Homo sapiens: one gene and its partner. Changing the gene in region 1 together with any one later gene gives a genetic interaction. Each region holds a gene or a part of one and is shown in the gene's direction. Other genes may lie near its edges.

Region 1 (4,009 bases):
CCTACTGCAGACGAGGCCTCCCCAGGAATCTCTGCTTCTAGCAGATGGGGACTAGACATGGATTCCTCAGGCAGACCTGGCTTCACTCCACTTACTGCAGGGCAGGTAGCAGCACCATGAGCACGACCTGCGCAGCTCATGTCCCGTTGCTGGCTGCCGCTTGCCTGCTCAAGGTGGCAGGTAACCCAGTGTCCTTCTCCCCTTCTGCCTTCCTCTCCAAGCCTCTGGCTACTGCATGGTGTGAACTCGTGGCCACCTGGGCCTCCTGTTTCCCTCACCCTTAGGAGGTCCCAGTCTTTCATACTGATCCATCTGTCATGCCAGCAGCTGGATTGGGCTTTTAAAACATAGATTCAGGCTGGGCACAGTAGCTCACGCCTGTAATCCCAGCACTTTGGGAGGCAGGCGGATCACCTGAGGTCAGGAGTTTGAGACCAGCCTGGCCAACATGGAGAAACCCCGTTTCTACTAAAAATACAAAATTAGCCAGGCATGGTAGCGCATGCCGGTAATCCCAGCTACTTGGGAGGCTGAGGCAGGAGAATCGCTTGAACCCAGCAGGCAGAGGTTGTGGTGAGCCGAGATCGCGCCATTGCACTCCAGCCTGGGTAACAAGAGTGAAACTCCATCTCAAAAAAAAAAAAAACAAAACATAGATCTGATCACGTTACCTGCTTATTAAAAGGTAAGCCCTTCTAGAAAGTGCTAGTTTTCCCTCATTCTGTCACCACTGTCCAGTCCAGGGGTGCACAGGGCCCAGGCCTCACCTGGCAGGTACGGTGGCTGTGCCCAGGTGCAGCCTAATGTAGTTCTTGGCCCTGAGCAAGGCAGGGCTGGCCCGTCCTGCCTCTGAGGCTGTGGGAGTCCTGGGACTCCCCTGGCTCCATACCCTGGCAACGGGACCACCACAGTGAGCCCCTCACAGCCTCTTCAGTCAAGGGACCCCCCCAGTGTCATTATGTGGGAAACCTCAGCTTTCTGAGGCTCTTTTCCCTTCCTTTCCCCTTCCCCTCCCCGTCCCCCTCCCCCTCCCCCACTCAGAACCAGTTTGGGAAGGGATGTGGGGTAAAGGCAGAGTATTCCTGTCCTCCCTGCACTTAGGAAGCTGGGATTAGGATAGAAAAAGGATGTGGTGCTCACAGGGGCTGGGTTGTGGCTCAGCATTGCCAGCTTCTGCCTGGCAGGCCACACCAGAGCCGCCCCTGACAGGCTATGTCCATCCTCCTGCCCCACAGCTCGTTGCCAGAGGAAAAAAACAAGAGCAGCTGCTCTTTTGAGACCTGCCCGAGGCCTACTGAGAAGCAAGAGGCAGAGCTGGGGGAGCCGGACCCTGAGCAGAAGAGGAGCCGCGCACGGGAGCGGAGGCGAGAGGGCCGCTCCAAGACCTTTGACTGGGCTGAGTTCCGTCCCATCCAGCAGGCCCTGGCTCAGGAGCGGGTGGGCGGCGTGGGGCCTGCTGACACCCACGAGCCCCTGCGCCCTGAGGCGGAGCCTGGGGAGCTGGAGCGGGAGCGTGCACGGAGGCGGGAGGAGCGCCGCAAGCGCTTCGGGATGCTCGACGCCACAGACGGGCCAGGCACTGAGGATGCAGCCCTGCGCATGGAGGTGGACCGGAGCCCAGGGCTGCCTATGAGCGACCTCAAAACGCATAACGTCCACGTGGAGATTGAGCAGCGGTGGCATCAGGTGGAGACCACACCTCTCCGGGAAGAGAAGCAGGTGCCCATCGCCCCCGTCCACCTGTCTTCTGAAGATGGGGGTGACCGGCTCTCCACACACGAGCTGACCTCTCTGCTCGAGAAGGAGGTAATAGCCTGGGACCAGATCCCCACCCTGCTCCCAGCAGCCTTTCCAGAGCATCAGCTGTGCCCAGCTGTGGCCTGAGGGGTTCATCTAGACAGTCCTACCCGCGAGGGACTTGCAGACCCCTAGGGGAGACAGACGCATAGATGAGTCCTCATAGTTGAGGCAGACCTGAGAGCTGTGGGAGCGTGCCAGTGCATGCAGGGCAGGGAAAGGGGCCTTCCAGGCACAGAGGAATTCTTCCGATGGTGGGGGCCCCTGCCATTGAGAGGCAAGCGGCGTTGCAGGGCCTAGATGGTTTCCTCGTTCTGACTCCCGATGGCAGGAGGGGCGCGAGCAGGGCAAGGCTTTTGCATTACGCAGCCCTGGCTTGGACAGGTCAAAGCTGTAGGCAGAGACCAGCCCCAGGTGCTCTTACAGTGGCTTGGGGACGGCCGATCAGATCTGAAGCCAGGGGCATCCAGCAGGAGATGACAGCTGGGTCCTAGGTCATGAGGATATGAAGCAGAAGACAGTGGTGAGGCAGGGTAGGCTGTGGATGAAGGCTGCCCTGTGACTGTCACTCCTCCACGAGGCCTTCAGTGCACCTAGGTACATAGATGAACAAGCTGGCCCCCGAACTATAAAATAAGATGTTCTTTCATGGAAATGTATGCAGAAATCCAGTCTGCAGAACTTCAGTGGTAGATTGACATGTCTGGGCAGGGAGTCTCGTAGCTGGGGAGGTGTAGCGTTACAGTTTTTGTAGAACTCCCTGTTTCACTCTCCATTTAGGGACAGTTTTCAACACTGTGTTTCAAATGTGTTCTCTTACGTAAGTAGCTTGTTAAAGATTTGCCACTTGGGTATGCCTCAAGCTTCTCATCTTTTTTGTATTTTATTAACTGTATGAGGCTGAGTTACCACCAGCACTAATACTTGTACTTTTTCATTTTCCTCATCCATTAACAAGTAACAAAGGCAAGATGAAATAAAATAACAGTTGAAACTCACATTACTTCAGGCTACCAAAATGGGCCAGCCAGCAGGCGACACACTGGCTCAACAATCTGGGGGGTCAGTCTTCACTGTTTAAAAGTCAGGGGTCGGCTGGGCATGGTGGCTCACGCCTGTAATCCCGGTACTTTGGGAGGCCGAGGCGGGCGGATCACAAGGTCAAGAGATCAAGACCATCCGGCCAACATGGTGAAACCCCGTCTCTACTAAAAATACAAAAATTAGCTGGGCATGGTGGTGCATTCCTGTAGTCCCAGCTACTTGGAAGGCTGAGGCAGGAGAATCACTTGAACCCAGGAGGCAGAGGTTGCAGTGACCTGAGATCGCACCATCGTACTCCAGCCTGGCGACAGAGCGAGAGTCCATCTCAAAAAAAATAAATAAAAGTCAGGGGTCTCCCCGCCTCTCACAGCACAGTCTGTCAGCACCCTGGGCGGCACTGGCCTGACTGTCCACCACACACACAGCTCCATTCAGCACGAGCTCTGGGAGCAGGTTGGGTAGCCCTGCACATGGCCAGGCATCAGGAGGCACCTGGGAGGTGTGTAGGGAAGAGGTGGATGGATGAATGAGTAGCTGAAGCTGTTGAAAGCAAGAAGAGTGTAAAATAGCTTACTCATGGGTATCCACACCTTGTTTGAGGGAACTGCGGGAACTCTTTTTGCAAACAGAACTTTGTGGAATCCATCATGTAAAGCTGGTCAAATGGAGTGGTTTCAGTTGAGACCATAGTGGGCCCTGGAGTGAGGCCTGCTTGGGGCCACCACTCACAGTGGTCCCTGTAGAGCCTAGCCTGGCCTGTGTGACCAGCTGAGGACACCCAAAGGACCCCATGGGGTGCTTCCTCCAGATGCAGATGCAAAACCCTTGTTCCCCAGTGGACACATTCCCCTTCTCAGAAATGAACACCCCGTATGGGCCTTGGCACCTATATAGGGCGTGCATGTTGGAACCTTGAGCAGGTGTGGGAAGTATGTGGGCATCCAGGGGTGCCTGGAGTAGGGAAGGACAAGGTAGTCCCTTGGTGCCCATAAGGTACCAAGTCTGCCATTGTTACTGATGGCTTGCATTGGAACCTTCACTTCCAAATGCTGCTGGTAAAGGCCATATCAGCACATCTGCTGAAATGTGGAGACTCCAAAACTCTTGGGCCACATGGAAGACCAGTGAAAGAGTCTGTGCTGTGCAGCTGCTTTGTTTATCATTGTCA
Region 2 (3,500 bases), on another chromosome or scaffold:
CACAAGCCACACTGAGAAAGCCGTTGCCTCCAGCTCATGGAGAGAAACACCTTCTCAGCTGCCACGTCATGAGCAAGTTTGCTTCGGGACCACCTGGGAAACCAGGAGTAGAAGGGGTAAACTCTTCCTCATCTGCCACAGGCCTGCCTTGCCTCAGGCCACGTCACCTTACCCCAGCCATGTTGCCAGGGCATGAGGACTAAGATGCTTGCCCTGCCAAGCCCGGAGGGGATGAGCAGCCTCAGCTGGTGCCGCCACAGACAGCACACCACAGAGGTGGCTCAGGGACCTTGGTAGATGGGAATGTGAGAATCTATTAAAATAGGCAGGGATCTCCGGTCCTCTGTCAAGAGGCAATGCTGACGGCTTTTTCCTGCTGGCGTGCCTCTGCCCACCAGCCTTCCCCTTGCACATCCTCATTTGTCACCTCCTAATTTGAATTATTGGGCAAATCTGGCCGCTTATTTGGGACTGACAGCCAACTTCTTGAGCATCTATTTGAACAGCCTTCCCTTTCGCTCCCAGCCACCTTTGAGGTGAGTCCAAGTGGCAGGACAGGACCCTGTGTGACAGAGCGGAGGTCTTGTGCCCTCTCAGCTTCTTCTCTGCTTTCTTACAGCTCACCTTGCAGAGCGCCAAGTCCCGAGTGGCCTTCTTTGAAGAGCTCTAGCAGGTGACCCAGCCACCCCAGGACCTGCCACTTCTCCTGCTACCGGGACCGCGGGATGGACCAGATATCAAGAGAGCCATCCATAGGGAGCTGGCTGGGGGTTTCCGTGGGAGCTCCAGAACTTTCCCCAGCTGAGTGAAGAGCCCAGCCCCTCTTATGTGCAATTGCCTTGAACTACGACCCTGTAGAGATTTCTCTCATGGCGTTCTAGTTCTCTGACCTGAGTCTTTGTTTTAAGAAGTATTTGTCTTCCTTTGTCTAATGTGGGATTCCTGACTCCCTTCGTCCAAGGCACCGGTGTGTGTGTGTCTTGCACTCCAGAGCTGACCTCCACCGCCCAGCCTGGGAAGTCATTGTAGGGAGTGAGACACTGAAGCCCTGAGAAGCCAGTGCCATCATCCCCACCCCGCCCAGGGTTCCGGAACATTCATTCCCCCACCGGTGAGGACCTGGCATGCAGCGAAGCAGCCCAGCCCGGCGGATCCCAGGCCAGCACGCCTGCCGGCTTCTCATCGTCAGGGAGCCCGCCCAGAGCTCGTGACGAGCAAGTGCTGGGTCCCCGCCAGGCACCCCGAGGCGGCGCTCTGGCTGGCAGCTGGTGGGGAATAGGCAGGGCAGCTGTGGCTGGGGAGAGACTTTAGGCAGAAGCTGTGATGCAGGCTGACTGCCAGCCGAGGGGCTGGGTAGTGCCGTGCGGGAGCTGATGGTACAGGGCACTCGCTGTCCCCCTCCGGCCACCCTAGACCAGGGTCCGAGAGGCAGGCAGGAGCCACTCATGTCTTCCCCATTGCCCGACGCCCATAGACGCTCCTTCCTGTGTGGGGCTGGGGTACTCCCTGGTCGTACTGCAGTCAGCACCCGTAACCCGGCTATGACCAGGGATCTGTAAGCCCTGTGGCTCCACAGGTGCTGCTTCTCACTGGCCCAGACTCTGAGCTCCACCGGCCCAGTCTGCACGGCCCATCTGCTTCACCTTCCCTCCCAGCCACGTGCCAGTGGCCACAGCCCACTTCCCAACCCACTGTTGTACCCAGGCCTCACTTTGCTGTTGCCCTTGTCCCTCTTCGGGCCCTGAATTTTCTGTTCCCTGGGGGCCAGCCAGGGCCCTTTGTGCCCCTCCCAGCACAGGCCTGATGCAGGTGTCCACTCACAGGTGGCGCTCACCTAGGCTGTCACAGGACCCACCTCCATGCCAGGCAACAGAGGGCCACAGAACCACCCCCACGGCTCACTCCTTGGTCTGGGGCCACCTTCTTGCCCTTTCTTTTTTTTTTTTTTTTTTTTTTTCCGAGATGGAGTCTCTCTCTGTCACCCAGGTGGGAGTGTGGTGGCACAATCTCGGCTCACTGCAACCTCCACCTCCTGAGTTCAAGCAATTCTCCTGCCTCAGCCTCCCAAGTAGCTGGGACTACAGGCATGCACCACCACACTTGGCCAATGTTCTGTATTTTTAATAGGGACGGGGTTTTGCCATGTTAGCTAGGCTGGTCTCAAACTCACACCTGGGATTACAGGCATGAGCCACTGCACCCAGCCCCTTCTTGCCCTTTCTTTTCTCCATGGCTGATGCTGCTGTGGCCAGCCAGGGCCCTTGAGATCCTTCCAGTTTGGCTGTTATGCAAAGCAGGTGATTTGTCTTAATCAGATAAAAGATAGAGGCTATGGGGGCCTCAAGATTTTTGGAGAGCAGAGGTGGTCTCTGGCAATTCCATCTGGTTTTGAGAAACTTAGCAGCTCACAGAGCACAGAGATCCTGCCTTCTTCCTACTATCAGGCTGACCTAATGGGGTTGGGCTGCTCGGCAACTGCTTGGGTCACCTTGCCCCAAGGAAACCAGCCCTGGGTGCCACCCAGCCACTTAGGGTCTACAGGGTGGGACTCCAGACCTAGAGCGTAAGTATGGATGTTGTGGCCCTGTGTCTTCCTAGTGTGACCCAGCCAGGAGCGGAAGCTTCAGGCGTTTGTAAAGTGAGGTCTGGCTCTGCCTCCTCCGTTTTTTTTTTTTTTCTGTTTCTGTTTCTGTTTTTTTTTTGAGATGGAGTCTCGCTCTGTCGCCCAGGCTGGAGTGCAGTGTCACGATCTCAGCTCACTGCAACCTCCGCCTCCCAGGTACAAGAGATTCTCCTGCCTCAGCCTCCCGAGTAGCTGGGACTACAGGCGTGTGCCACCATGCCTGGCTAATTTTTGTATTTTTAGTAGAGATGGGGTTTCGCCATGTTAGCCAGACTGGTCTCGAACTCCTGACCTCAGGTGATCCTCCCACCCCGGCTTCCCAAAGTTCTGGGATTATAGGCGTGAGCCACCATGCCCGGTCTCTTCTCAGTCTTGAAGCCCATCCCTGGATTTCCACCAGGAGTTACTTTCCTCCTGACCTGTAAATTTGTTCTTTAACAATGGCTGCAGGTGGGAGCATATGGTGGTTTATAAAAACGCTGTCGGGCTTTGTTTCCTTCTTTAGCTGCCGTGTCTACTTCTGAAGTCTGGGAAGTGCCAAGCCACGCGGCCTCAAGGGAGCTGGCTGGTGTTTGAGCTGTGGCAGAAGCACCTGGGGCTCCAGGGAGCAGGCTGGGAACTGCAGGACCTTGCTCAGCCAGGAGCACTTCCCCCTCCTTGAGGCAGGAATACTGAGGTGCCTCCCCACAGATGGAGAAGGTGGAGAGGAGGATGGGCCTCAGGAGCATCTCAAGCCCCAGTAGCAGGAGAAAGAAAGAAAGAGATGCCTGGTTTTCACAGACTGGTTCCTGTGGCTGGGATGACTGCATCCTTTTTTTTTTTTTTTTGAGACGGAGTTTTTGCCTTTGTCGCCCAGGCTGGAGTGCAATGGCGTGAT

The links.
Region 2: changes in MPRIP (region 1) and NF2 together harm fitness more than expected from each alone (negative genetic interaction), as found in Homo sapiens cells (one large-scale study listed by BioGRID).

Annotation. Positions count from the first base shown.
Region 1 is NC_000017.11:17,157,197-17,161,205, forward strand, and holds part of MPRIP (myosin phosphatase Rho-interacting protein), read left to right. Parts: intron 1-1,235; coding exon 1,236-1,806; intron 1,807-4,009. UniProt on the Homo sapiens protein: Targets myosin phosphatase to the actin cytoskeleton. Required for the regulation of the actin cytoskeleton by RhoA and ROCK1.
Region 2 is NC_000022.11:29,694,133-29,697,632, forward strand, and holds part of NF2 (merlin), read left to right. Parts: intron 1-619; coding exon 620-670; coding exon of another isoform or gene 671-677; 3' UTR 678-3,500. UniProt on the Homo sapiens protein: Probable regulator of the Hippo/SWH (Sav/Wts/Hpo) signaling pathway, a signaling pathway that plays a pivotal role in tumor suppression by restricting proliferation and promoting apoptosis.